Linked DNA regions of Homo sapiens. The protein of the gene in region 5 purifies or fractionates together with the protein of the main gene of each other region. This does not show direct contact. Each region holds a gene or a part of one and is shown on either strand. Other genes may lie near its edges.

The links.
Region 1: the proteins of IRF5 (region 5) and TRIM35 purify together in Homo sapiens (affinity purification with western blotting, with the first as the bait; one study listed by BioGRID). This does not show direct contact.
Region 2: the proteins of IRF5 (region 5) and HIVEP1 purify together in Homo sapiens (affinity purification with mass spectrometry; one large-scale study listed by BioGRID and IntAct). This does not show direct contact.
Region 3: the proteins of IRF5 (region 5) and RGS3 purify together in Homo sapiens (affinity purification with mass spectrometry; one large-scale study listed by BioGRID and IntAct). This does not show direct contact.
Region 4: the proteins of IRF5 (region 5) and PPM1G purify together in Homo sapiens (affinity purification with mass spectrometry; one large-scale study listed by BioGRID and IntAct). This does not show direct contact.
Region 6: the proteins of IRF5 (region 5) and GTPBP1 purify together in Homo sapiens (affinity purification with mass spectrometry; one large-scale study listed by BioGRID and IntAct). This does not show direct contact.

The regions. Positions count from the first base shown.
Region 1 is NC_000008.11:27,286,795-27,291,761, forward strand, and holds part of TRIM35 (E3 ubiquitin-protein ligase TRIM35), read right to left. Parts: intron 3,385-4,967; coding exon 3,362-3,384; intron 2,487-3,361; coding exon 2,368-2,486; intron 1,334-2,367; coding exon 756-1,333; 3' UTR 1-755. UniProt on the Homo sapiens protein: E3 ubiquitin-protein ligase that participates in multiple biological processes including cell death, glucose metabolism, and in particular, the innate immune response.
Region 2 is NC_000006.12:12,123,293-12,128,259, reverse strand, and holds part of HIVEP1 (zinc finger protein 40), read right to left. Parts: coding exon 2,390-4,967; intron 1-2,389.
Region 3 is NC_000009.12:113,504,779-113,509,745, reverse strand, and holds part of RGS3 (regulator of G-protein signaling 3), read right to left. Parts: intron 4,305-4,967; coding exon 4,223-4,304; intron 3,359-4,222; coding exon 3,253-3,358; intron 2,460-3,252; coding exon 2,108-2,459; intron 1,206-2,107; coding exon 1,166-1,205; intron 1-1,165. UniProt on the Homo sapiens protein: Down-regulates signaling from heterotrimeric G-proteins by increasing the GTPase activity of the alpha subunits, thereby driving them into their inactive GDP-bound form.
Region 4 is NC_000002.12:27,380,699-27,384,612, forward strand, and holds the end of PPM1G (protein phosphatase 1G), read right to left. Parts: intron 3,395-3,914; coding exon 3,254-3,394; intron 2,903-3,253; coding exon 2,668-2,902; intron 1,908-2,667; coding exon 1,778-1,907; intron 1,531-1,777; coding exon 1,428-1,530; intron 1,108-1,427; coding exon 901-1,107; 3' UTR 501-900; downstream 1-500.
Region 5 is NC_000007.14:128,936,010-128,941,679, reverse strand, and holds the start of IRF5 (interferon regulatory factor 5), read right to left. Parts: upstream 3,754-5,670; 5' UTR 3,631-3,753; intron 3,464-3,630; exon of another isoform or gene 3,435-3,463; intron 2,555-3,434; exon of another isoform or gene 256-2,554; intron 1-255. UniProt on the Homo sapiens protein: Transcription factor that plays a critical role in innate immunity by activating expression of type I interferon (IFN) IFNA and INFB and inflammatory cytokines downstream of endolysosomal toll-like receptors TLR7, TLR8 and TLR9.
Region 6 is NC_000022.11:38,722,475-38,727,441, reverse strand, and holds part of GTPBP1 (GTP-binding protein 1), read right to left. Parts: intron 4,899-4,967; exon of another isoform or gene 3,920-4,898; intron 3,146-3,919; coding exon 3,031-3,145; intron 1,437-3,030; coding exon 1,292-1,436; intron 1,185-1,291; coding exon 1,002-1,184; intron 230-1,001; coding exon 94-229; intron 1-93. UniProt on the Homo sapiens protein: Promotes degradation of target mRNA species. Plays a role in the regulation of circadian mRNA stability. Binds GTP and has GTPase activity.

The DNA.
Region 1 (4,967 bases), on a different chromosome or scaffold from region 5:
AGAGATGGCAAGCATCTGGCTGAAAGCATGCCTTTCCTATGGAAACCAACTAATCCGGAGCGATGGCGCCAGCTGCCTCCTTCACATGGCTCTCCCAGGGCTGTCACACCCCAGGCCAACATTCACCTGTCCTGACTATCCCGGGGCCAGGTATCAGACAAAAAGGGCAGCCCCTATCCTGAGAGCCACTGAAATTACTCAAGCCAGCTACCCTTAAACCTGTCTCCCCTGCTTACTCTGCCTTGCCCATTTCCTCCTGAGGAAACCAGAGGAAGTCTCTTGCCCACACGTTCCCCTCCCTCCTTCCGCCTTCTGACCCACCGTGGGGCTTTCCTATGTGGCCCCTCCTCTCAGAACCGTAAGTAACAAACTCTCCTTTCCATGGCAGTCCCCTCCTCATCCAATGGCTTTACCACACCTCGATGAGATGGTTTACAACAGGCCCATTCTAGAAGTAAACATTATTCCCAGAAATCCTGGAATAGGGATTCAGAAAATTCACATTGTGGAGGTGCCACGACTCGGGAGAGCCTGGCCAGCGAGGTGCCACCCGAATAGCTCCTGACCATGGGCACAGAAGGGACCAAACATGGAGAGAGGCACAGCCTGGAGTCATGGAAAAGGACCAGGCAGGACAGGAGGAAGAGCCTGGCAAGGAGGCAGGGGCGCAATAGTGCCCAAGCAGTGTGGGCATTAGGAAGAGGGCAGAAAGAAAACAGTGCTGTGGCACAAGACCGGGGCAGCCCCGGGCCAGCTCAGCCATCCAGTTCTTCCTTGACACTGATGTGCAAGGGGCAGATGCGCAAAGGCTCTGGAGGCCCGGCGCCCCGTGCACCCCCCAGGTAGAAGTAGGGGCGAACCTCCCCAAAGCGGGCGTGGAAGGTGTACAGGTGGCAGTGGCGCTCCGCGTCATAGAAAGACAGCTCGCCCTCCTCACACTCCAGCTCCACACGCAGGCGGCGTGGGATGGCCAGGACCAGGGGCGACGTGGCTGGGTCCGAGGTCACGCAGTGGTCCCCCTCCACGCCCTGCGTGCGGCAGACATACCAGAAGCCCGAGCGTGTGTCGTGGTAGCAGCTGTGTGAGTGGCCCTCAGCGCCCGAGTCCTGGCGCACACGTACCACGCCCACCCTCCAGCTCTGCAGCCCCCCAAGGGCCACCTCCCAGGCGTGCGAGCCCTGTGAGAAGACACGGGAGCCCAGCAGGCAGGGCGCCGAGGAGAAGCGTTCCGGGTTCTCCACCTGCACGCGGTAGCCATGGTTGGTGACGCTGGTGAGGTCGTCAGACACGGAGAGCCAGCCAGCTGCGGTGTTGGGGTCAAAGCTGAAGGGTACTGCAAGCAGAGGCGGAAATGGGGAATCAGCAAACCTGAGGTCCCTTAGGCCACACGTGGATATCTCCAGCCCCACAAACCAACCACTGTGTCACACCTGGCCCCAAGTCCATGCAAGGAGTGGCCCAGGGCTGGAGTGGTGGCAGGGGTTGGGCTGTATCCCCCAGAAGATATGCGGCAGTCCCAACCCCTGGTACCTCCGAGTGTGACCTTATTTGGGAATGGGGTGGTTGTACACATATTAGTTAAGATGAAGACTGGAGGAGGGTCCCCAATCCAATATGACCTGTGTCCTTAAAATAAAGAGGAGACAGACACAGATACACAGGGGAGAATGCTGTGTGATGGCGGAGGTGAGGATCAAAGTGCTGAGGGGGAGCCAATAAGGCCAAGAATGGCCAGGAGACACCAGGAGACGGAAGAGGAAATGAAGACTCTCCTCTACAGGTTTCAGAGGGGGCCTGGTCCTTCCAACATCTGGATTTTGGATTTCTACCCTCCAGAACTGTGAGAGAGTCAACTTCTGTCATTTTCTAGTTTGTGGTCCTTCGTTATGGCAGCCACAGGAACTCATACAGGCAGAGACTCTTAACACTCACACGACCAAGGGATGTTAGGACAGCACGGCCCATTCCCTGAGTCAGTGATATTCCTCCCCGTAAAACCAGGACACTGTGGCTCATGTGGGCTGCAGTCGCCTTAGGAGAGGCAAGCCCAGATGCAGGAGGTCTTTTATCATACAAAACACAGTTCTGAATAGGCAAGAAAGCCAGTTTCCCTCTCTGAAGAAGGGACCAAGTGTCAGGACCCTGAGAGAAGGCATTCTACCAGGAGGGTTGGAGGTGTTGGGCAGAGTGGAAAAGACCAGGGTACAGGAACCTGCCTGCGAGGGACTGGCAGAGGGATCAGCTGAGAGAGGAGGGGAGCTCTGAGGAGGTGGGAGGTGGGCCCGGCAGAGACCAGCCCTGGTGCCTCTTTGCTAACATGAAGGGCTTCCACCCATGCTTGGGACACCTGCCGGCACCCCCGCTCACCAGATTCCACAGATGCAAGCATCTTCTTCCAGACGCGGTACTGCAGGGAGCCCAGGTACTTGCAGACATCGATAAGCATGCCGGGCTGGACTGGCTCTGGCTCCATGGTGCAGAAGAGTCTGGAAAAGTACAATGGGTATGGTGGGCAGGGCCAGAGCCATGCAACCTGGGCCGAACTGGGCCAACTGGAAACCAGCAACAGGACTTGTTCCCTTCCCTCAGGCCCAAGTTTCCTGGCCACCTTCTCCAAGACAAGACTGGACTGGGCTACGATGGGAGATGGGCCAAGGCCAACAGGGCTGCCATCTCCCTTCAGCATTCAATCCGAGGGCTCACCCTGCCCCAACTAGGAGAAATACAAACAGGAGGTTCTCCAACATGGCTGCCATCCTTGCAGGCAGAAATCACACTTACACATCCGGCTCATGGGATGTCTGAGTTGGAAGGGACCCTAAGGATGCTCTAGTCCAACAATCCCAAGGTGTCCTCCAGCCTTTGCTTGCACACTGCCAGTGGGAAGTGAGCACAGGGAACTCACTCCCTCCAAAAGCACTCTATTCCATCTTTGCACAGCTCTGACTGGGACACAGCTCTTCCTCATTCATCCCTGTGAACCCAACAACCATCAACACAAACCACCATGGCCTAAGGCTCTCAGAGGGAGGGGGCTGATCAAGAAACAAGCCTGACATTGACTGGCCCCGAGAAATGCAAGCCACATGCAGGATAGTGTTCTCCTTCCCTGCACGGCAGGTGGGGACCCTCCACACTCAGGAGAACAACACTGCCCCAGAGCCAACTTGAACTGGATGCTGTGAGAGGGCTCTCTCCACCTGGCCATTGTCCACCTCTCCCTCTAAAACCAGGGCCAGTAGCTCATGTGTGCTGGTGCACCCAGCTGGTTGTTACCTGCTTGCCCCGGGGCCACTGGAGTTTGCACCCCTGGTATTTCTGCCCACTCTTCCCCTCCCCTCCACCAGCTTTGGCAACTTACCGGCGTTTTCGGCTCTTGTGTTTCTGAAAAAATAAAAATAAAAAAATAACACAGAGACACAGATGTAGAGGAAATGTATATGTTTCTGACCTCAAAAGAAGTCATGCATTCCATGGATCATAAGTCTTAATATTGTCAAGATGTTAACAATAACATCCCTGCTATGATTTGAACATATTATCCAAAAGTTCATGTGTTGAACACTGAATCCCCAATGCGACAGTGTTGGGAGGAAAGGCCTAAAAAGAGGTGATTGGGTCATGAGGGCAGAGCCCTCACAAATGGATTAATACCGTTATTGTGAAGTGGTTTAGTTGTCATGAGACTGGGTTGCTATAAAGCAATGAGCAACTACTCTGTCTTGCACTCATTTCCTCCTTCTGCCATGAGATGACCCACACCAAATGCCAGAGCCATCATGCTCCTGGACTTCCTGGCCTCACCCAGAACACTGAGCTGAATAAACTTGTATTGTTTTATAATTTACCCAGTCTGTGATATTCTGTCATAGCAACAGAAAACATAAGAAGAGACTCCTTAAGTTGATCTACTGATTCAGTGCAATCCCTTATCCTAGCTGGCTTCTTTGCAGAAACTAAAAAACTGATCCTAAAATTCACACAAAATTTCAAGGAACCCAGAATAGCCAAAACCATCTTGAAAAAGAAGAACATTGGAAGACTCATAATCTCCAATTTCAAGACTTACTACAAATCAACAGTAATCAAGATAGTATGGTACTAATATAAAAACAGGCACTGAGATCAATGGAATAGAATTGAAAGTCCAGAAATAAACCCTCATATTTACCATCAATCAATTATTTACAATAGTGCCAAGATGATTTAATGGAGGAATAGTCTTTCCAACAAATGGTACTGGGAAAACTGTATGTTGACATGCAAAAAAAAAAAAAAAAAAAAAGTGAAGTTGGACTAACCCTTACTATACCATATACAAAAAAAAAACTCAAAATGCATCAAAGACCTACATGAAGAGCTAAAACCGATAAAAAACTTGTATCTAGACTATATAAAGAACTCTTACAACTCAACAATAAAAAGACAACCCACATTAAAAATGGGCAAAGGATGTGAATAGACATTTGTCCAAGGAAGATCTACTAATGATCAAAAAGCCCATGAAAAGATGTTCCAAGTCATTAGCCATCAGGGATGTGATGACATGCAATACACAAGGAGATACCACTTCACACCTACAAGGATGGTTATAATTTTTAAAAAACAAATTTTGGCAAAAATATGGAGAAACTGGAATCCACATACACTCCTGATGGGAATATAAAATGATACAGTTGCTCTGAATAATGGCCTAGCAGTTCTTCCAATAGTTAAACCTAGAGTTACCATTTGATCCAGCAAATCTACTCCCAGACATATTTCCAAGAAAAATGAAAACATGTCCACATAAAAATTGCTACCTGAATGTTTATAGTCATATTATTCATAATAGCCAAAATAGAAACAACCCAAATGACCACTGTCTTAGTTCATTTTGTGTTGCTGTAACAAAATACCACAGACTGGGTAATTTATAAACAATAGTTTATTTCACTCGTGGTTCTGAAGCTGGAAAGTCCAAGAGC
Region 2 (4,967 bases), on a different chromosome or scaffold from region 5:
TTTTCCTGGCAAACAGATTGGCTTCCGCATAATTTAGAATATATGCACACACCTTCCTTTGACTTTATCCCTTTAACAGTAATCCTCTTTATTTTCAATATCAAATTCCCCTTTATCTTTTGCTCACTTTCGTACTATTAAATCTGGCTTCTACTTGCCAAAGTTATCAATGAGCTAAATGCCAAAATCTTAGTCTTTACATGCTTGAGCACTCTATGTATTGTATGTTGAAAATGCCATGTTTTGCCTAGAAATCCTTTTACTTTATAGCATCTATCTGTTCTTTCCCATTGTGAATCATAAATGCATTAACATTTGAGTTGTGGATAAAAGCCCAGTAATCCATGCTCCATAGCCACTTGCTCATAGACTCAACTCTCCAGTGATCTGCGCAGTCCAGATATACCCATTTGCCTTCAACTTTATTTGACCTAACAACTCTCCTTGAATATCTTCTTCTGTGTTTTGTGTGATGCCACTTTCTGCTCATTCTTATCCTTCCTCTATGATCAAACTCTTTCAGTTTCCATACAGGAGTGTGGACTTTCTTCAACCATTCAACTTTTTAAATAGTAGTGATCCCCAGTATCCAGTCTAGGCTCTCTCCTCTTCTTTATACCCTGAGCAATCTCATTAATCACACCTATGCACTAAAGAATCTCTACTCTACACAAAAGAATCTCTACTCTACACACTTCCATCCAGAGCTCTCTCCTAAGCTCCAAATCTAGATATGCATTTCCAGACATTTCTTCCAAGGCATTTGGTACTCAAGGAGAGCCACTTCTCTTCTCCACAAACACTTCAGGAACATACACGGAGTTTTGTTTAAATTCTAACTATTAGGTCTTAACTTCCAAGATTTAGTAGATTTAGAGCCTGAGAACTTAACAAATTCCACAGGTGGTTTGGATGCACTTTCCTTCACTGAGAAAGTATCATTGGTTCTCCACCACCATACACATGATTTGATTTTTACCTATGTTTCCAAATTATAACTCTTTTTAACCAGGCCAGACTCTTCAGAGTTCTTTAAATGAACCAAGTTTATTCTCATTTCCATGTCATTTCGTGTATTATTAATTTTTTTTTTTATTCTTGCTGGGCGCGGTGGCTCACACCTGTAATCCCAGCACTTTGGGAGGCCAAGATGGGTGAATCATCTGAGGTCAGGAGTTCAAGACCAGCTTGGCCAAACCAGACATGGCGAAACTCTGTCTCTACCAAAAATACAAAAAGCCAGGCGTGGTGGTGGGCACCTGTAATCCCAGCTACTCAGGAGGCTGAGACAGGAGGGTTGCTTGAACCCGGGAGGGGAGGATGCAATGAGCCAAGAGCGCACCATTGCACTCCAGCCTGGGTGACAGAGTGAGATTCTGTCTCGAAAAAAAAAGCTGCTTCTTCTTTGCCTGAAAAATCCCTATTTTTTTAAAAAAAATTTGAACAGTTAGCTAAAGTATCACCACCTTTGGAGTATGTTTGCTGAATTCTTCTCTCTTCCACCTACCAGTAATGTTAGAAACTTCCTTCTTTAGAATTGTTCATAATTCTATGGTAATACTGATACTGCAGTATTTTCCTACTGACAGATTTGTAAATGTTTATTAACCTGTGTTGCATGCTTATGAATCTGCAGAGGCCAAATACTTCTGAATATGCAGAGTCGAACGTGATATGCTTACCTATTATTCTAATCAAGTAAATGACTTTTTCCCATTTTATAAAGCTGATAATTCTAATGAGACTGATTCCACAAATTACCCCAAGTTACAGTTTCATGACCTTAAATTACTTTATAAATCTTGACCAAATCAACTTACCAAGTATATGAATTATTTTGTGAAACTTCTCTCTAGTGCTAATGGTTCTCACAGCTACACTGGAAGACAGCTACATAGCATGACAGGGGCGTGTAGCTAGTAAGCTCAAGACAAGTCTAAATGGCTTTCTGCTTATATTTCAGGATGAAATACAACTATCTTTGATTATCTACACCTGTTTCCCTGCATGAGGAGGAACAAAGCATAACCATGATTTCCTTTCACTTAACAAGAAAAACAAAACCTCAATATAAGTAAAACATCAAAGTAAAACCATGATCATCTGTACTACTAAGTAAAGACTTATATAGTTAGCTGAGAAAAAGAAAAGTGCTCAGGGTAAATCATTTCTAAAATCTTTCAAGATAGAATCACTGCAAGACTCTTGGTAACTCTTATCAATGTAACTCCTGGGGTAAATATATCACCCTGTCTTTCAAATAAGACATTTACAGCACAATTTGTCACTCAAAATTAAAATATTTCCAGTTAAAATATTTAAAGGTATCAAGACACATGGAAACAAATTTGCGCAAACCATATCTGAAGATAAATTATATTTCAAGTACCTTGCTTAAGCTGCTTTTCCACTTGCTTGAATAGACCAATAAGTCTGACTTGGAATGGGTAGTTATTGCTTGACAGTATAGTGATTTTCCAGTGTTCTGTTTTGAATTAAGGAGAGCAAGTGCAACTTTTGTGGGCAAACCGAGTGGATTTGGATTACTGGCGCTTACTGTCCAATCAGTATAGGCTGAAGTTTTCTGGTCCTTCTGAGGCAAATGCAACGACTTCTGCCTTAAGAGATAACACCATGTAAAGTTGGTTGTAGTTTTCAGGCTAGGGAAAGCCAGCTGCTGGGTGTCCTTGATGTTAAACAATGAAAGAGAAGTGACTGGCTGTTGACTTTGCTCTTGGATGTTCACTTTGTCACCTTGATTTTTAACCCCTGGAGACTTCCTTTCTTGGTTATTGTCTGTACATTTCAAAGGAGAAATATGAGTATTTTCTGAAGGAGCAGGTGAACTTCGAACTGTAAGAGTTAATGATGTGGATGACTTGATGTTTTCAAATTCCTGCAATTCACTTATAGGTTCTATAACGACAAATTTAGAGCATCCTGTTGATGAATTATCAGCTGGTAAAACATTTGTCAAATTAACAGCCTCATTACTAATTTCAGGTTGAGAAAAAACATCCTTTTCCAACATCACACCGTCCAGGGGCTCTGTAGTACAAACCTGTCTCACTAAAATAGGCTTCTTCTGTTTACTAGCTTCATTAACTCTCGAACTCAAAGCCTCTAAAGGTCTCACGTCTGTTGCACAAACAGCTCCATTTTCATCTTTGGCCCGCTTCTGGTGCTTTTCCATGGCAATGTCTAAACTATTTGCTGGGGAAAGCATCCTTTTACTCGAAGCTGAAGATTCTTGTTGAGGGGAAAGTCGACCAACAGATATTTTCTGAGTTATGGGCAAGGATTCTGATAGAGAAGAATTTTGGCTCATCTCTGAAAAAACATTTTCACATAGAAATTCCTTCTCTGGGTTTGGCAAAGCATTCTGATGACCTTTTTGTAATGTTGGCACAGAATTTTGTTCTTCACTGATTGGCACTACACTATGATTAGTCTGGCAAATTGGCTGATTGGGCAGATCTTGGGTCACTAGTATTTGTGGCAGGGATGTGAGTGTAGCAAAACAGTAAGCAGGAACACTACTCTGCAGGCGTATGGGCAGCATGAATGATGATGGCACCTTCTGCACCTGACTTCCAAGGGGCCTGAGCTCTGGTGGTAGCAGAGGATGCGAATTAGACATGCTGTCAATTAATTTGGTTGGTAATGTTGCTGATGTCACACAATGATCTGTTCCAACTGGATCTGAAATAACTTGATTTGGCAAAGAATGCACAGGATTAGAAGAGCAAGATGGGCCTGAAGTGAAAACCTGACAATGCAATTGGTATTTGGGAGCAAAGCAATCCTCACTTTTAGAAGACCCAGATAAAACAGAATTTTTATCTGGCTTGCTACCCTGCGTAGACACTTGCAGAGATAGCTGTGTGCTCTGGTGGCTAGGCGGTGCATGGATTTGATTTAACAAATTGATATCACAGAGCTGTTGAACAGGAAAAACGTTGGTAGAGCTGGAGTTTGATGTTTCTGCCTGCAGATCCTTAACCTGAGTCTGAGAGTGCAAAGTATTTGCAGAAAACTCAGCTAAAGATGTACTAGTGAGCTGAGGCCCCTGATATGGCACTGCATTCACACTGGGAAGAGCAGTATTTTGGAAAGATGTTGGGTGTACAGGAGACAGATGACTATCTGGGGCTATGTTTAAAGATATTTGCCGTACCAGTGGGCCTCTCCTTCTTTCTAAGAGAGGCACATGCCCAGTCACTCCCACTCGAGAAGGTGAAGATGGAGGCTGCAATTCAGTAAGTGGTGTTGTCTGGGGTGGGGTGATGCTTCCACAATCGAATGATTTGCTTCTGAGATCAGAGACCTCCATTGACGTTTGCGTGCAATTAATCTGTTCTGATGCAGTACGCCTCATTTCCCGGTGACATCCAGGAACATTCAGAGTATTCAAGCCAGCTGGAATCATAAGAAACTCGGCTTTATTTAGAAAATCGATTTTGGGGGAAGCCTCCGTTTTAGAAACGTCCTCTATGTCTAAAGAGGCTGAGAAACTTGAAGTGTGAGATAAACTGCTCTCCCTACTTAGACTCCTGGAGAGAGTGGAATCAAAGCTCGATTCTGTTGAGGAATGTTCTATCTCAGCCAGACGGAGCCTTTTCTTTTTGGGTGGCAGTTTCTCTGTTGGCAATTTTGACAAGGTTTCACTACGCTGGGGCCAACTGAACTTCTCTGACTTTTCTTGATCATGGCATTGAGCTTCCAGGTCTCGATCTGGTTCTTCTGTGACCAAAATCTCTGGAACTTGGATGTTGTGCTGCCGGACAAGTCTTGAGGGCTGTCCTAACACATGTCGTTCACTTGGACTCTTTCTGGAGCTTTCCTGAAGTTCTCCTCTGAGAGCGTCTGATAGTGCAAGCTGGTGAGGATGAGACCCGTCCCGAGAAGGGTGACTTTCCTCTTGGGAGATTCCTATCACTTTTAGAGACCCGGACTTCCCCGTTCTA
Region 3 (4,967 bases), on a different chromosome or scaffold from region 5:
AAGCATCGCCTTCACACCACTGAGAGGGGAACAGCAAGGAAGCAAGTCTGTGAGTGGCTAAGCAAAAGCCACTGTCAAGGAAGGCGGTCCAGACACCAGATGGACTTCTGAGTCAAAGCTTTCTGGCAGGCACGCGAAGGATCTCAAGGAATGCCCAGCCAGCTTCAGCCTCAAGACCAATATCTCAGCCTTCCTGGGAGAAGAAAGTGGTTTTGAGCTCAGCTTCCACCCCTGATCAGGATTTTAAAAGCCAAAGAAGAAGAATCCATCCAGCAGCAGAGACATCTGTGCACTTCAAAGACAGCTACCCTCTGTATAGCCTCTCTCAGTATACAGGCAACTACTCATAACCATTCTCTCATGGGATCCCCCCAACAACCCTCTGAGGTAGGAATTATTGACCCCATTTTATAAATGAAGAAACTGAGGCTCAGCGAGGGGACAGGATTTTTTTTTTTTTTTAGACAGAGTCTCGCTCTGTCACCCAGGCTAGAGTGCAGTGGCATGATCTCGGCTCATTGCAACCTCTGCCTCCCAGGTTCAAGTGATTCTCCTGCCTCAGCCTCCTGAGTAGCTGGGACTATTGGCGCACACCACCACGCCCAGTAGTGATTTTGTATTTTTAGTAGAGACGGGGTTTCACTGTGTTAGCCAGGATGGTCTCAATCTCCTGACCTCGTGATCCACCCACCTCAGCCTGCCAAAGTGCTGGGATTACAGGAATGAGCCACCACGCCCGACCAAGGAGACATGATTTGCTCAAAGTCATATAGCTAGAACTCCAACTCAAGACCTCCCACCTCCACGCTCCCTGACTCCCTTCCATGCAAGCCCAACCACATTGCCTCTGGCACCTAATATATATCGGTTGCTCTGTAAAATTGGATGAATCTCAATTGAATGCCTGAGGCCTGGACACACGGTCTCTCAAAATGCCCTGGTAAGATCCCCTCTCCTCCTTCTCAGTTCTGGCTTCAAGGAAGAAAGACATTGGTTCCGTGAGGGAGAAAAGGTACCACGTGGAAAGAGAGTCTGTGTCGATAGGCTAAGTGACCTGACTCCATTGGAAAGGCCTCAGAACTCAGGGGCGGAGGCTGGGCCAGGCCTCAGCTGACCCCTGCTGCCTCTCTGAGCTAGGAGGGCACAGCAGCAGCAGGAGACTCACCTTCGGGGATGGTATCCTCCTGGTACACAGGCCGGAGCAGCTGCAAGGGAAAGACAGGAAAACCACCTCAGCCCCAGGAACAGGGCAGGACAGCCCAGGAGGCTGCTGGACACGGGGGCCCCAGGGGAGAGGAAGTGGAGCACCTCAGGGCACAAGAGAAAAACAGCAGTTCTGGTAACCAGCTGAGGGAGGAGGCTGGGAGAGAACACAAAATCCCAGAATATTCAAGTTGAAAGAGGCTTTATGGGTCATGAAGCCTAACCCCTTGGCAAGTCCCCAACTTCCTTTACAGCAGCTGGTTCCAAAGTGCATTCTAGGGAACACTGGAATGGTAAGACGGTACCAACCACGCCCTAAAGTGTGCCCCCATTAGGCAAGTTTGGGAAATGCGGTGTTATTTGGTTGACACCTGCTGTAGTACAGGATGCCAGCAGAGCCTCTACTAGGCTCCTTTGCATTGAGAATCTCCTAGATGAGGAAGAGGGTATGGGATATGTCGCAAGCTTATTTGACCTCAGAACACCTTTTTCCCAGAGCATCTCATGGGACTAATGTTTTGGGGAGCGCACTCCATCATCCCACCATGCAATCATGCAGTGTCTGCTTTCATACCTCCTATGATGGGGGCTCACCACCTACCAAGGCAGCCCATTCCACTGGGGAAAAGCACAGGCTAGTAGAAAGCTCTTCCTTCTGTGAGTTGAAATCTTCCAGCCTGTGCATGCCCTGGTCTTGAATCTGTGCCCTGAGGCCACATAGACCCATCTGTCCTCCCTACCAAGAACAGCCTTGCAGAAGGCAGAGCTAGCACATACCCCATCTCCTTGCCCAACATCGCAGCCCCTCACAGGCTGCTCATCACACAACTTTGGGTCTTCAAGTCTTCCTGGCCTCCCACAGGGACCCAGTACCCTTCACCTTCCCCACACCAGCTGTCCGTACCTGGCTCCCAGGATTCAGCGGGGCCAGGATGATGTAGTTGGGGTCGGTGGGGGCAGTGGCACGGGACAGTGCAGGCAGGGTGTGCTGGCCCCCGCGCTTGGCCACCTCGGTGTAGCGCTCCCAGCCGCCGAGCAGCAGCCCATCAGAGCTGTCACATACCAGGTGGCAGCTGTGGCGCTGCTCAGGCCGTGCCTGGACCCCATGGGTGCAGTTCTTCTCCCGTTTGTTGGGGGGTGACTGGAGGTCATGTGTCGACTTGCAGGAGGCCCGCCGCAGGACCCCGCCATCTGGTCCTGGCTTGACCTGGGGGACCATGCGCCACACGAGTAGGATGATCTCACTGGGGCAGCTCCTGGAAGGTGGGGGATCACACAGACAGGTTGAGCCTGGGGAAAGCCAGTATCAGCCAGAGTGAGGGCCCACAGGGCAGAGAGGATAATGGGGGAAGAGGAGGCAGACACCAGAGGGGAAGCCCCCAGTGTCAGGGCAGGAAGGGATGCAAGAAGCCATTTAAAGAAGAGACAGCAAATGGGTCACCTAGGTCAATTCCTATTGACGGGCAGTGGTTGAGAAGGACCCTGAGGCCAGGCCAGTTTCAACAGGAAAGAGTTCCATACTCAATCCATGATGCTTATCAAAAGCAAGATATAAGCAAGTAAAGCTAGCAGGTCACCTAAGTGCAAGCCCTCATCTGGTTATTCCAGAAGCAGACCTAAAATGGGGCCATCGGGGTTTTACCCTAGAGGATCAAAATTTGGGAGACTCCAATGTTTTCAAGAATATTTTTTTAATTGTGCAATTGAAACATTTGCAACATCTTCATGCCCTTAAATAACAAATGGGCTTAGCTCTTAGGTAACAAAAATTAGCTAAAGCAGAAAGCAACCTCCTGGTGCCCCGTCCTGAACCACAGAGTCTGAGAGCATCTTCCCTGCTGTTTGCTCTGGAATCCAAAAGTGCTCTGAGCCTGAACCTTCCATTCTCAGGCCAAGAAACAGATTCCTTGAAGAGCAAAAGGAATTGCCTGCTCACAGCTAGGCAAAAGAGGGAGCAGCAAGAGCTGGGCCAGGCAAGGCAGTGTGCCCAGGGGTGGGGAGGGTGTGCCATCAGCCTGAGGCCCCAGGCCACCCGCTGTCCCCTGTCACCGGATCTCGTGGGCCAGCTCCACACATTTCCAGTGCTCCACAGGCCTCTCATTCAGCTGCAGCACCGTGTCCAGCTGCTGCAGCCCTGCCCGTTCCGCCGGACCCCCTGCAGGGACAAAGAAAAGCCATTCAGGGGCCCCTGAAGCCTAAGACCCCTTCAAAGGATCTGGAGTCCTTTGCTGCCATGGTGACCTCAGACAAGGACCTCCCTTTTTCTCTAAGTTTCTTCATCCGTGAAATGAGGGACTGAACTTGGTGCCTCTCAAGAGCCTTGAAAGAAGGCATCCCTTTGCCTTCCCTTCTCCCTGCTTGCCTCCCCTACTGCTGGCTTACCTCCCCTACTGCTGGCTTACCTCTCTGCAGTCCACCCTTCTACCCGGGCCCTTACCCCTCCCCAGGGCCTCCTACCCCATTGAGAACCTTCCCTGGGGCCAGGCTCCCACACTACATTTATTCCTTCTCTGCCAATCATTGTGCACGAACCTCATGCCCACCCTTGTGTAGGCACTGGAAACACCCTGACCACTGAGCCCTGGCTTCTGTCTTTGAGATGCTCACTCTGTGATTAAGAGAAATCTTCATTTGTGAAAAGTAGGGAAGGATGGCTCTTTTTAAGTGCTGATCAGGCTCTGGATAGGATACAAAACAGCTTCAAATAGAGTTCACAAATGACTCTCATTTTCCCTTGCAGCCATTGCTGAAAATATAGGTTTAGTTCCTGTTCAAACTGATTGGGAAACAAAATATAAAAACCTATTTTCATTTTGATAAAAACAACAAAAAAAAAGTGGGCATATTTTCATAAATGGCAGTTTCATCTACGGTCACTTAAAAATATTATTCTTTTCATTTTGAAAAGCCAGGACACTTTGCTCCAGTTTGGGGCTCCCCTTTTAGTTCCAGACTATGTTTGCAAAGCCCACATGTGTGGTGGGCAAGTGGGGTTGGCATCCCCCTGTCAATAACTTACCGGAATCCACGGCCTGGACTCGAACTGGAGAGTCGCAGCAGATGGTGAAGCCAAAGCCGTCCTTTCCCCTCGGGATGGTGATCTAGGACACAGCCCTGCCCGGTCACTGCCAGAAGCTGGAGGCTCTTGCCTCTACCCCAAGGTCAGGAAGCCCACAGCCCACCCCTGCCAAGAGCCACCCTCCTCTCCAAGGGAACTGGAGGCACAAAGGAGCTAGCCAGCCCCTCAGTGTCCCTATCTCAGCCCAGACAACTTGAGCACTGGGTTGTGGGCCAAGCAGGAAGGCCCAAAGCTCAGCAAGTAAACCCAGGCTGATGTGGGGAGGGCCTGGGATGGACAAGGTCTTGGAAAAGCAAACTTTGCCATCCTGAGCCCCAGCAGCCCCAGCCCTTGATCCAAGGGCCCACCAGCACTGCATGACTCAGCCTCACCTTTGATCCACTGTTTTCCTGGCTCCCTTCTTCCTTTCTCACAGAGGTTCACAGAGCGTTAGCCTGGGGCGGGCCCTGTGCTAAGGGCCCAAAGTCAAGGCCAGCCTGGTCACTGCCCTCCCAGAGCACAGGGGAGGAAACACTGGGACACACTCACTCCATCTCAGGCCAAGGGTCAGAGGAAGAGAGCTGAGGTTCTGGGGGCCAATCTGTGGCCAGGGCCCCAAGGCATCCCATGAGGACTCCCAGGTAAGGTCACAGATAGGCTTCCTGGCTGAACCTGAACTAGCCACTGACTCATGTGCCTGCTGAGG
Region 4 (3,914 bases), on a different chromosome or scaffold from region 5:
CCGCCGCCGCCGCCGCTTCCATTCATGGAGCCCCCTACCCCCCTACGGAGACCAGCTGGTACCTCCGTACTCGCTTCCGCTTCCGCCGCCGCAGAGACGCACGGGACGCGTAGTCCGTGGGAAGCGGCCGCGGCGGGAGCCTCAATGGCGTGACCGGGAAGTGATTGTGACGAGGCGGGGAGCAAGCCAATCAGCGGCAGCGGGGAGCCGGCCAGGGAGCAGCGCAGGAGGCGTCCTGCCCGACTCCAGGCTTCAGGCCAGCCAGACCGGTCCCAACCTGTCCCTGGGGGAACTAGATCATTTCTGGCTGCAGGAGGGGGCGAGGGGCAGCCGCGACGCCCGCCAGGCCGGCCTACCAGCAGCTCGCTCTGGGCTCTCCTATACACGCGCAGGACACACACGAGCACACGCACACACTCACATGGGGGCTCGCCACATGCTACAGATGGGACCAAGTCGGGGGCCACGGCAGCAGAAAAAAAAGGACACGATGCGTACGATTAGGTTTTGGCCTTTAGTCTGAAAAAGTGTTGATTGAAAGTGTACAACAGAGAGCGGGTGCAAGCGGCCGAGGGCCATGGAGCCGCCAATAAAAAAGAATGTCCTTAAATAAAGTTCACAGAGTAAAAACCAGAACCGCCAGTCCTTCCCTCCAACACAACAGAGCACAGGCACAGAACCGGTGATGAGCCCGAGGAGCAGAGGCGGCTGGGAAGGACAGCAGAGGCTCCCGGCTGCAGTGTGGAGGGAGAGCCCTCTTTGGAATGGGCGGAGTGAAGCCACCCAGCTCCCCCTGCACACCTCATACCCACTGCTAAGGCTAAAGGAAAAAGACAAAACTCAGTCTCAGGTCCGGAGGGCTCAGAAAACAGTCTAGGTGGGCAGGGGTCTGGATGACTGCTAGTCTCGCTTGGCCTTCTTCTTCTTGTCGCTGTTGCCATTTTCTTCAGCCCCCTCAGTAGAGAGCACCTCCTCTAGTTTTCGCTTGCCACTCTCTGGCTGGAGCTCTGCTGTGTTTCGGGGCTTGAAGCAAATGATGATGCAGGTCATGTTGTCACACCCTGTACCATCCCCAGAAGTGTCTGGTGCCAGGCACTGATCCAGCAGCTAAGAAAGGGATGGGGGTAGCTCAGCCACAGGGTTTGAACACCTTGCCAGGAATCTACAGTCCCACAAGAGGGCTGGCTTGCTGAGTCAGGGTGGTAGGAGAGGAATGGGCAAGAGGTATCACACAACGGCCCACCTGCTAGTCCATAAGGCATAAGGCTAAGTCAGGGAAATGACAGAAGGTGGAACTTTGGAGTCGGGGTTTAGCGTCTGTCAGCAATTACTGATAATGCTCCCAGATTGCCGACTTAGCTCAGATTAAAAGAGTGAACCCTGGCTGTGCAGACCAGACACCCTCTCTTCTCCACCCTGGTACTCACCTCTTCCACAATGGATGACAATAACCGAAGCTCCCCATTTTCATCACGCTGGCTGATCTTTGATTGAATGAAATCTACAACTTCCTGGCTGCTCATCACATTCCTGGGGTCAAGAACAACAGTCAGAATCTTCCAGTCTCACTAAGGCAGCGTAGAGGAGTATGGACAGAGGTGGTGGCCCAGGCCAGTGTAAATAACTACAGAAATTCTCAGCTCTGCCTTAGTCTGGGTGCTCTTCACCCACCAAGAGGCCTAGGTCTGCCTAGGCTCTAATCCTAGAGGTGCCCTGAGTCCTATAAGAGAAGACATGCTGCAGAAAGGGGAATTTAGGGCATTCTGCCAGTGCTCACCAGATGCCATCACAGGCAATGACCATGAATTCATGGTCGTCAGTGAGAGTCAGCACCTTGATGTCAGGAAGGGCTGAAATCATCTGTTCCTCAGGTGGCAGGTTCTTGTTTCTCTTATAGAAGTGGTCCCCTGGAGTAAAGGAATGGTTGATGAGCAGTTTGGATACTTCCCACAGACTTGTGTTTGTGGCAGGTCAAACCTTGCCATTCATTTCCCTTCTTTACAAAGTTCCATAATCTAGTGGAATGGGGAACTGAGTCCTAAGTCCTAGTTTTTCTAGTTTCAACCCTGCCACCAGACTGCTGAACCTTAAGAAAGTCACTCACTGGTCTTTTTATTTTAAGTCTTTTTTGTTTTTTTTTTTTTGAGACGGAGTTTCACTCTTGTAGCCCAGGCTGGAGTGTAATGGCACGATCTCGGCTCACTACAACCTCCGCCTCCCGGATTCAAGCGGTTCTCCTGCCTCAGCCTCCTGAGTAGCTGGGATTACAGGCTTGCACTACCATGCCCAGCTAATTTTTGTATTTTTTTTTTTTTTTAGTAGAGATGGGGTTTCACCATGTTGGCCAGGCTGGCCTCGAACTCCTGACCTCAGGCGATCCACCAGCCTCAGCCTCCCAAAGTGCTGGGATTACAGGCGTGAGCCACCACGCCCGGCACTCACAGGTCTTTTTCATCATTCAAATGTTACATAAGATGGGTATAATGATACCTATGTATAATGATACCTCTACCCATCTTAGTTATTTCACAGAAATATAAGAACAGAGGTAGTAGATATTAAAGTGCTTTGAAAGGCACAAGCACTAGGAAGATTAAAGTTTGCTACTAGGTAGTCTGGGACAGAGAGAAAGACCCTAGAAGTCTTTCCCAGTTTCTTGGCCCTTACCAATGGCTCTGGAGAGGTTGAGGCCCCCGTTGACTCGCCCATCCATGGTGACCTTGCCACCAGCATTCTTGATGCGTGCTAGTTCTACTTCATCCTCTGGTTTGTGATCATAGGACATGTCTAAAGCTTTGCCAGCCTCAGATACCACACAGCGAGAGTCTCCTGCGTTGGCTACAATCAACTGCTTCCCTCGTATCAGGGCCACCACCGCTGTTGTACCACTGTCAGAGCCAGGCTTAAGAGGAAGAAAAGGAGCATCATGGGGGCTTCTGAACATGCGTTCCTCACTGATGTGCTCCTGATCGTTCACCTATGCTTGCTTTCACTGGGACCCCCAAAAGAGCTTTAACAAACAGGAGAAGCACACATTTCATCTTTCTAGAGACAGCAGCACACTCCCTCTCCCTTGTTTTTAGATAATTCAACCCCAAAGGCTTACCATCTCATTCCCCTTGCAGAATAAATCCCCATGACTATTACTTCCATCCTAAAGTATCAGGGGGATCCCCTGTCTCAAAATCAAAATTAGGGGATTCACACCTGCCTTGTGGCTTTTCAAGACTCATTGCTCCCCTTCCCCACACACCTCCTCTTTGCCTTCCATCCCTGGCACCATCATCTCTTCTTCTTCTTCTTCATCGTCCTCTTCAGCCTCCTCGGTGTCATCCTCATCTTCCTCATTCTCTGCCTCCTCACTGCTGTAGCCATCCTCTTCCTCGCTGCATTCCTGCCAGGGGGAGGATCCCAGACTGCTGAGACTGGGATGATCCCCTCCCTCCCCACAGCTCATACTCAGAATCAAGAGGTCCTGACTGAACACAGGTCCTCAAAACACTGAAAGATACAAGTATATGGTCATGAAAATTGGGGGGATGGAAAGGGCTAGCATGAGTACAACTGACATCCTGAACTGGGCTTAGCAGTCACTAGCAAAAAGCCCAGGACAAGGCAAGGGCTGCCAGCCAAAAATATCTTTCAGGCACTGTGGCCAGAAAATAAATTTTCCAGAGAAGAAAACAGTCAACTAGCCAAGGTAACAACTATCTCCTTGTTCTCTCTCTAGGAGACAGACTCTGAAAAGCCAGAACTAGATCTGCTTGTTATAGTACCAACAAAGGAAGAGGTAAAAAGGCAAATGGTACCTGTGATGATGGAGCTCAATGAATTCAAGACTAAAGCTTAGAATACAGTGGGTCTTGGGGGATGATGTCAAAATAGGAGAAGGAAAGAGAGTTGAAAACTACAGA
Region 5 (5,670 bases):
GGCTGTCTTGTCTCAAGCTGGCTACCTGGGACAGCGAGCGCTCTGTGGGATCAGCCCGAAGACAGCCTCCTGCTCAGTCTACACCCCTAGTTCGATTCTTCCCTGCCCAAGTTTTCTCACCCTCCATCCCCTGAGAGTTCCCTCCGGAGATGCCCTCAACAAGAATCTCATCTGGAGCTCCCAAGGACACCTGCCCTCAGAGGAAAGCAGTTTCTCAATATCTTTAGAGAAATCCCATCAACCAACTCAACCCACCTCCAATGACAGCAGGCACCAAACAGATGTTACCTCTCTAGGGCCATTCATCTAGGTTCTTGGTCCTCCCCCTTCTCCTCCCACTGGACACGCATTCGGGTAGCACTTAGGAAGGCCCTAACGCCTGCCGGAGCCTGTTAGGAAGGCTACAGGAAACAGAAGCCACAGCTCTAACTGCTACCTACCCAGGGGCACGAGCCCCGCCTCCCAGGCCACAGCTTCACTGCCTCCCTGGAGTCAGGCCAGAGGGACCCTGCCTCCTCCCCTTCACCTGCCCAACTCCCTCTCCAGCCCAGAACCGGAAACTCTCCACAGTCCTGAGTCCCCTTCTGTCCCTCTCCTCCCCTTACCCATGCCCTTGGCCCTTCACTTGAGACCCCTGGGTGGAAGACAGAAAGGACTGGGTCATTACACAGCACAGCCCATCAGAAGTGAATGTGTCGGTCAGCAAGTAAGGAGCAAACGTTCGAGCTGAACTCCCTGTGTCTGGGCCTGCTTTGGCCTTGCAGCATGGAGCCTCAGTTTCCCCTGAAATTCCCTGCCCAGTACCTTTTGGGGTTGCACCTGCCTAGTGCCGCCTCTGAGCTGCTACTGTCTCACATTGCAGGCCTCCCTCAGAGCCCAGCTCTGCTGCCACCAACCCAGGAGAGGTAAGGCCGGCCCTTGCCTGGCCCAGGGGCTGGGACGGGGAGGTGTTCAGAACGCTCCAGCCCTGCCCTGGCCTCAGAACACGCGGGCTCAGTTCCGCTTTCTGCCCCAGCCTCCACCCGGCCCCAGGGGAAACGAAAGTGGCTAGACCGGGACAACTCAGAAACCAGACTCACTGTGGGCTGAGGGAGGGAGCCGAGTGGGTCCCCCAGACCAAATTTCCAACCTCCCACCCAGAGCTGTTCCCCGCACCCCAAACTTGCAGACAGTTTTTGTGCATTTAGTGTGGTTTATAACATGGGTGTGCACCCACCCATAGTTGTATCTGTAGACCCCTGAGAGGCCTTGGCCCTAGAATAGAGGGGTGCCAGTCACCAGCGGCACACAATTCTGGCCGAGCAAGGGTGGACAGAGGAAGCTCTGTCTGCACAGAATCGGGGAGAGCTTCCCTAATGACCCCCTGGGCTGAGGCCGTGCAGGCGCTGGTGCCGTTGGGGAGCTCAGAGGGTCCGGCTGCCTGCCCCCTACTGTCAGTCCAGCAGTCTGGCCCTGCCCAACACGGCTGTTTAATACAGAGCAAGGTTTTGAAATGATAACTCCGACCTCAGTGTCAGAGGGCCGCGTCCATACAGGCAGCTTAGGGAGGGGTGTGGAGGAGGAGCTCCCGTGACAAGCCCGGCTGTGATGAGCGAGAGTCTGTCCACCATGCCACAGAAGGGACTCAGCCTCAAGGCTTTTGCCTGCAGCTAGGTCCACACGAGCTCTAACCCGAACAGCATCCATCCTCCTAGAAGCTCCCTTCTGCCCAGAAAAGGGCTAGGTCTAATTCAGACCACCCCAATCAAGGCCCATGACTTTGGAAGTTCGGTGTCAGAACAGGTCTGCCTGCCAGGCTCCGGAGTCTCTGGGTGAAATGTATGGAGCCCTAGACCTAAGTCAATGGACCTGAGCCCCGGAAGGTGGGGAAATCCAACAGCCTGAGGAAGTCCCTACAATTGTGTGAGGCAGCGAAGCATCCAGTGGGCAGCCCTAGAGGACCTGCTGAGGTGGGGTAAGCCCACAGCTCACCCCAGGGCCATGCTGGAGTCCCAGGAGACAGTGCCCCCACCACCACCCAGGAGCTGCAATTCATGGGCACCAGGGACCCACTAGGGGAGGAAGTGCCACAGCAGTCCTAGTAAGAGTGGCCAGACAGCAGGCGCCCTGCTGCTCCCAGGGTTGGTCTGGGTCACATGTCTCCTTGCAAACCCACACCCAGCTCAGGGAGAGGACAAGGGGTTCCCTGTACAGGCCCTGACCCCCAAATCCCACCCCTCCGGGTCAGCTGCCCACACCCTGGGCCCTGCTGCCCACCTGGTCCAGACAGGCTGAGGCTCTGGGGCAAAAGGTGCCCAGAAAGAAGCTTCTTTCAGCTTCCTCCCAGGGTCAGGGTAGGGGAAGACCAGGGTACAGGGGAAAAACCCCAAAGTAGGGCCTTTAGATAAAAAGGGGTGATTTCCCAGTGCTTCCCTTGACTCTTGGAACCCCTCAGCCCCAGCACCCCAGGCCCCATAACTACTGGGGGTGGGGGCAGGAAGGGGAGGTCTTGCCAGAGGGCCTCCTGAGGGGCTACAGTTTCCTACATCGATACAGCCGAGCCCTCTCTGGTTCTGGTCACTTATCCCCATTCTGGGCCCTCGAGGAGCCCAGGCCCAGCCCAGTCCTCCGCCCCTGCTCCCCCCTCCCCTCCGCCCCCACCCCTCCCGCGTGCTCCGCTGGGGCACACCCCCTGGGCCAGCCCGCGGAGCCACCCCCACCTCCAGAGTCGGCCTCTGGACCTCTCCTCCTGCTGCTGGAGGAGCAGCACCCCGGTCCTCGCCCTGCTGTGTTCAGCGTGGCCGCGAGGCTGGGAAAGTCCCCCACTCCAGCCTCTGCTCCCAGGTACCCGCTCCCGCCCCTCCCGGGGTCCGGAGACAACCATCTCCCCACGCATCCCGGCCATGCTAGCCTCACTTTTCCTCCACGTTTAGCCTCTTCATTGTTGCCTTCTTAAGTTCTGGGACAGGACCTGAGGAAACCAGCCCAGGAACTATTGCGCCCCATCCTTTTCCGCTGCTCGGGGGACGAGAGTCTGCCATTCCCGGCCGCGAGCCCAGGGACGCAGCCTCTACCTGACACCATCTTCCCCCAAACTCTTGCACAGTTCCTGCCATTGGCCTGAAGATCCCGGGGGATGAACGCTTTAACCTCAACCTCTTTTCCGAAAGGGTGAGGGTGGCCCGGTAAGAGCAAGGGCGAGTGCATCGAAAGTAAGGATCGGGCCTCGCTCCTCTGTGGTCCAAGCCAGCCTCCAGCGGGGCTCCCGGGAACCCCCATTCTGGGCGATGGCGAGGGGGAGGGAGAGCAGCAGAGCCGGCGCCCCCCGCAGCGCTGCCCACTCCGCCGCCTGGGTCACTGGGCTCCCCGGGCGCCAGCACCCCAAACCGATCGGGGCGTGGGAGGCGCTTTGGAAGTCCCAGGCCGGCCGGGCGCACCCTGCTGTAGGCACCCACCCGAGCTCGCTTTCCAGGCGCAGCTGGACGCGGACCCCGCCCTACTCCAGTCTTCATCCCGCCGCCCGCAGGTGCCTGGGGGGCGCGGGGCCCAGTCTAGGCCTAGACTTGGGGGCAGTAGCCGGCACCGCTCCCGCCACCCTCGGGGCGCGCCGGGCGCGGACGCAGAGAGGAGAGCGCGGCGGCCGGGACCCACCTGTCTGCGGTGCGCCTGCGTGGCTGCGCCAGGGAGCACCGGCCGGGCGGCGGGACCAAGCTGAGCTCTGCCCAGGCTGCGCCTCCCGCCGGTCCGCCAACCTGCCGGGCACTTCCGCGTCTTGCCGCCCCCGCCCCTGGGCAGCTGCTGCTGAGCTCCGGGCGCGGGCAGTGCCCCGCCCCGCCCCGCGAATCCACTCCGGGCCCCGCACTGACCTGGCAACTGCAGATCCGGGCTGAGCCTCGGGCCAGGCCCAGGGCCTCCAGGGAGATGCCAGACGGCGCGGTGCCCTAGACTGGCCACTGGCTCTTTTGGCAATCTGGAATGGCAAAACTGTCATTTGACAACCCCGTACCTCCCGCTGCAGTGCTCAGTTGGGCCCTGGGAGAGGGTGGGGTGCTTCCCCACTCTGGTCCTCCGGGGCTGCACACAAATGAGGGCGCAGTGTGGCCGACCCACAGCTCCAGGCCCTCCTCTCGCCTGCCTACACCCCTGGCGAGGGTGGCTCTCGCCCTAGAACACAGTCGCTGCCCCCAGGATCCAGACACCCCTTCCAGATGTGCTTGCAGGCGGGAATCCTCTAGTCACTCTGTGCCTTTCTCATCCTCAAACCCTGCACCTGTCTCGCCCCAGCTCCCCTAAGTCGCCTTCCAGTCATCCCAGGGGCAGCGGCGTGGTCGCCTGTCCCACCTCCTCTCACTACTACCTTGACCGTCGACCTGTGGTTCTGAACCGTTTTCGATTCCATAAAGAACCTCACCCCAGAACCTCCACCTTCACACACCTCCTGTTCCTTCTCATGGAATGTTCTTCGCTTGGTAACTCTTGCTCTTCAAAATTTCTGTTTCTGAAATTTTCAGCATCGCCTTCTCTGGAAAGTCTGCCTTGACTTCCCCTCCCAGGTGGGGTTCCAGGGTGCAAATAGCTTCCTGGTTGATTTTGCTTATGATTTTGTTATGGATTGCCAGGGGTTTGGTCCAGGTCTGGCTGCTCACCGCACAGAAAGCCTATCACTGAGACAGCGAGTATTGCCAGGGAAGACTTTATTCCGGTGACATCAGCCAGTGAGCTGTTGAGAGGGGAGACAAACCTCCAATCCATCCCTCCCCTTGACTAAAGTTAGGGGCTTATATAGCAGGGAAGGAAAACAGGAGGGACAAGGAAGAGGAATTGGTCAACAGGCAGCAGGTGTACTGATGTAAGTGTCTCAAGCTTCAGTTCTATGAGCATCTGGCTTTTTGGAAAATTCAGCGGGTTTCAATTTTGATGTCTGATTTCCACTCGAATCAGCTTACTCAGGAACCTCCCTCCTGTCTTTTCATTGTTCATTTTATTTTATTTTATTTTTTGATATGGAGTCTTGCTCTGTCACCCGGGCTGGAGTGCAGCAGTGCGATCTCAGCTCACTGCAACCTCTGCCTCCCCAGTTCAAGCGATTCTCCTGCCTCAGCCTCCCAAGTAGAGACGGGGTTTCACCATGTTGGCCAGGCTGGTCTCGAGCTCCTGACCTCAGGCGATCCACCCGCCTTGGCCTCCCAAAGTGCTGGGATTACAGGCGGGAGCCACTGCGCCAAGCAGAGCCTTGTATTTTTAACAAATAAAGTAGTATTTGTTGATGAATCAGAACTTTGACCTTCCCTCCCCTCCCTTCTCCTGGGTTGAACTTTACCTTTAACAAGTTAAAAAAAGACACTCATGTGTTAACGTTTTTTTTTTTTCTCTTCTGTATCTCTCCCTCTTTCCTGACCTTTGAAGCCCTAATATGAAGTCGAAATATCATTATATATAAGTATTTTATTATTTGTATCTGCTGAGTATTTCATTATTTCATATTTTTAAAATTTAAAGTATGGATGGGGAAAATGTGAATGGGTAGATCGTTTTATATTTCTTTCTTTAAAAATGAAATTGCTAGGCCAGGCACGGTGGCTCACATTTGTAATCCCAACACTTTGAGAGGCTAAGGCAGGCAGATCACTTGAGTCCAAGAGTTCGAGACCAGCCTGGGCAATATGGCAAAACCTTGTCTCTACAAAAAAT
Region 6 (4,967 bases), on a different chromosome or scaffold from region 5:
GCAGCTGGAACTAGGGGGCCTGGGTTGCTGGAACACCTTCTGAGGGGAGCTAACACGACGGCCTCCTGGGCTGGCAGGGCCTTAGACACCTACCCATGGCCTGGTAGCGCGGGCTAATTGTGGTGGGGTGGTGGAGGACGAGAATCTCGGCCTCAAACTCCCAGGAGGCTTGGGGATTCAAACGTGGGGAAACCATCACCATGCCCTTCCGGATGGACGAGCGCTTGATCTGAAAGAAAGAGGGAGCCCCAGCCCTCAGGGACAATTATGCCTTCTGGTTTCACCCCTGGTCCCAGGGACCAAGAGTCTTTCTAGGGATAGGGACCACCCCAACTCTGCCTGGTTTCCTCACCAACTGGACCACAGGCCTTCTAGGGTGGACAGCACGAGCACCCTCAGTGCTCCATGGGAAGACTCAACACTACTACTGGGGGTCAGGAAGGCTTCATGCGGGAATCAGCACTTCAGCTGCTCGGCCATGAAGGACGCATGAGGAAGCAAAGGCAGGCAAGCATTCAGGGGGAACAACAGGTGGGCATGACCTGACCACTGTGGGGAAGAAAGTCCTACTATTCCTGGTTAATTTAGTTGGTGGGTAAAGGTAGGTGACCCCTGAACTACAACCCACCCCAAACCCCAGGAGATAGAAGGCTGAATGGGAAGAGGATGTGGCGCAGATCCCAATGGTCCTATGTAGAAGGATCCTTGCACAGCAGGGATACTCCTATTTGACCTCACCACTGAGCTCAGGCCACCCTGCTCAGGCACCAGAGGGAGGAACGGAGCTTAGAAGGAGGCATTCCTCGCTCTAGCACTTACAAGCTGTGTGTCTTGGGCAAGTCCCTGGGCTCTGAGCCTCAGTTTCCTCATCTGTAAAAATGAAGCCAGTAATCCCGACCTTGCAGAGCAGCCATGAGGACTAGAGTGGGTGAGCAGGGCATCTGGCCAAGAGCCTAGCATGATGGAGTCTGAGGGGAGCGTTCAGTATCATCGCTACTCACCTTCTTCAGCGCAAAGGATGCTGTCTGGCCACCCCGCACCTCCTTGACAGGCATGCGCTTGCGATGGATGGATTTGACAGCAATGGACAGGAAGTTACCCAAGGGGTCTGGGCCCAGCAGCAGCGTGTCATTCAGCTTGATCAGGCCTCTCAGTGTTGTCCCCGAAACCACTGTCCCCACACCCTGCCAAGGAGAAGACCCTGGCCTCATAAGTGCATCCCCAGCACAGACCCACCCCCTGATGCCACTGTAGGAAGTGCCCACCCAGCTACCCGCCCAGAGCCACTTACCGGGACGGAGTAGGTGTCATCAATCTGAAACTCAGCAGGCTCCTCCTCCCTGTAGCTGGTGCGGGGGGAGAGGAGGTTGAGGAACATCTTCAGCAGATCTAGGTTCTCGCCTGTAACGTTGGAGATCTGGAATATCGGGCACATCCTAAGCAGAGGGAGAAGAGGAAGGAAAAAAGGAGAGAGGCACTCAGGAGACCAGGTCCTGCCCTGACACAGACCAGGGGCAGCAACAGGGCTCGAGGAGCAGATGCCACTATTCATGACTCCACCTCTCCCTCACCTGCCTCCAAGGGCTTGACCTCTTTGCCCTGACCTAGCAAGCTCCTGGCCAGCCCTACTCTGAGGCCTTCTTCTCTCACTCAGTTCTGTCTCTGACACCTGTCCTCTCCTCTCTGTCCTCCACCACTGCCCTAGTTTGGAACCTCATGACTGCTTCTTCCTAAAACACACGCATGCTTGCTTAAAATCCTTAACCGCCTTTCCACCACAGAGAAGATACCCCAAATCCCTCTCCCAACACTCACAGCCCTTTGGCTTGGGCTTGTAGCCATCTCTGCAGATTCACTTCTCGCAAATTCCTATATTCCAGCCACACCAGAGAACTCTCCCTTCTCCTAAAACTTTGGAACTTTTCTGCCCTTGTGGATTTGCTCACTCTGACCTTCCTTCCTGAATTCTTTCCCTTTTATGCAACTACCAGGCCCTCTCACCCTTCAGAGCTCATCTCAAATACCACTTCTTCCATGAAATCCTTCCTGGGTGGACACTCTTGACTCCTCTGAGTTCCTGGAGAGCTTTTTCTCTATTACACATGACTGCATCTGATTTTTCATCAGAGTCCTGTAAATGGCCTCTATTGCTCCTATTCAGGGTGACTGAATTAAAATCCTTGAGATCACGAATTACACATTCCCCACAGCTCCTAGAATAGTGCCTGCACAGAATAGGCACTCAAGAATATCAACAAGCTCAAATGGGGCTGTCTGAAATGTGCCCCCTCTGCAGGCTAACTGATGGTACTGAAGATCACATCAGGGCAGAGGCATAGGCAAAAAGCCAGGCTGCTCTGGGCCTGGCGCTATAGACCAAGCTCTGGGCAAACAGGCAGAGTTAGTAGAGTTCACCATTATCGAGAGAGCATCTCTCACCAAGGAGCTGAACACCTTGAGGACAAGGATTGTGTTCAATTCAACTCTGAATCCTCAACATCTAGATGAAGAGTCTCGCAGAACAAACATCCAATAAATATTTATGGAATGAAAGAATACATTAATGAGTAAATGCCAAAACTGATCTGATTAGTGAGCTTTTGAGGAACAACAGTATAAAAAACTGAGTTACAAAAATGGCTGTGTATTTACCATCCATCAGCCAGGCAGGGCATTAAGTGCTCTACATACTTCATTTCCAACATTCACGGGAGCCCTACAGGGAAGGGAATGTTATTCCCATTTCACAGATAAGGACACTGAAGTCTCAGCCGGGATGCCAACCCCAGGAATGCCAGCACCTCACAATCTGGGTTACGTGATATTACCCCTGGGCAACAATGCTGGCTTGGGAGACCCTGCGCTAAGATTGGAAGCTTCTATTTCCTCCGATCTCTGAATAGGGAGAGGTGTTGATGTGGTGTTTTCATGAGACCTTATGCCCAAACTGACAGCCATTCCAGGCCCATCACTCACTGTGGTCCTGCCTGCAAGGGTGCCTGTCTGAAGTGTGCGCTCCCCACGCGTTACCTTTCAGAGCTGAAGTTGGAGGCTGTGACAATCACATCATCTTTGCTCTGCACCAGCACGGGGATCTTCCGGCAGCCTGGTGACTTCAGCAGGCGCTGTAACAGCTTCAGGGTTTCTTAAAGGGTGCAATGGAACAGAATTAGGGGGACACAGCCTTCTCTTTGGCCAGGCTTTAAGAGCAAGATGGGTCCACTCATTACTGATGCAAGCAGGAGACAGACAGATAGATGGACCAGTGTTAAATGCCACAATGCCTGGAGAAGCAAAAAGGAGGATCAAAACTTTGGGTGCTGCTAGAGTAAGAAAAGCACAGATGGGGCCTCTTTTCTAGGGTTCTGCGTCTGAAACCTGGCAGATTTCTCTTGTGTCTAGACGACCTGCCTCCTGTAAGCATGTGACTTGAGGGTCCCCAAGAAAAACAATTCACTTCACACTTCAGTTCTCAGAATGCACTACTTCCTGGAAAAAAATCTCATCCAACAAAAAGGATCTCTTAGACATTTAGAAGTCTACAGAGACCCTTATTATGAGGCTTCCCAAAGGGATACTTTTCTACAATCTTTAGCAGTGAGGGAGAAAGGCATGAAGGCTTAGTCCTGCAACCCTGTGTCAAAGCTTTGGTGGCAAAAGGTAATCAGACCCTCTGTCCAAACTTCCCCGTATATATCCAGCTTAGCTGGTAGAGCCCAACTCCTTCTGCCTGGGGTCACCTGAAAAGAGGTGCCAGATTCAGGATCTCAAGATTTCTGCATTTGGAACCAGAAGGAACAAGGAAGAGGATAATTCTAGGCTGTGTTCAGACCAAGAACTAAATAGGGGAGGAAGTAGCAGAAGATTCTGGGCTGATGGAAATTCAGGCCAAGACCTAAGTACAAGACAAAGGAAGTTTCGCCCGCGTGCACTGAAGATGGTAGCTGCTGTGGGAAGGCTACTCTGAGCATCGGCTGCCCGACATGTGAGTGCCATTCCTTGGGGCATTTCTGCCACTGCAGCCCTCAAGCTTGCTGCTTCTGGAAGAACGAGCTTGACAAACATATTATGGTCTGGTTCCAGTCAAGCAAAATTCTTTAGCACCAGCTCCTCATACCATGCACCTGCTGTCGCCCAGCATGCACCCTATTTTAAGGGTACAGCCATTGTCAATGGAGAGTTCAAAGACCTAAGCCTTGATGACTTTAAGGGGAAATAATTTGGTGCTTTTCTTCTATCCTTTGGATTTCACCTTCGTGGTCCTACAGAAACTGTTGCTTTTAGTGACAAAGCTAAGGAATTTCATGATGTGAACTGTGAAGTTGTGGTCTCAGTGGATTCCCACTTTAGTCATCTTGCCTGGATAAATACACCAAGAAATAATGGTGGTTTGGACCACATGAACATCCCACTCTTGTCAGATTTGAGCAAACTTCCTGAGACTACGGTGTGCTGTTAGAAGGTTCTGGTCTTGCACTAAGAGGTCTCTTCATAACTGACCCCAATGGAGTCATCAAGCACTTGAGCGTCAATGACCTCCCAGTGGGCCGAAGCGTGGAAGAAACCCTCCACTTGGTGAAGGCGTTCCAGTATGTAGAAACCCATGGAGAAGTCTGCCCAGCAAACTGGACACTGGATTCTCCTACAATCAAGCCAAATCCAGCTGCTTCCAAAGAGTACTTTCAGAAGGTAAATCAGTAGATCACCCATGTGTATCTGCACCTTCTCACCCCAGAGAAGAAACACAGTTGAAGCCTGCTTTTATCATTTTATAGATGATTATCTGTAGAAGGCAAGGAACCAATTATGCTTGTACTCATAAATATTACTCTAAATGGCTAAGGCCTTTTAAACATGGTTAGTTGCTAGTATAAGGAATCCTTTATTGGTAACATCTTGGTGGCTAGCTAGTTTCTACAGAATATAATTCGCCTCTGTAGAAGGCAATTCTTAGATCACATCTTCAG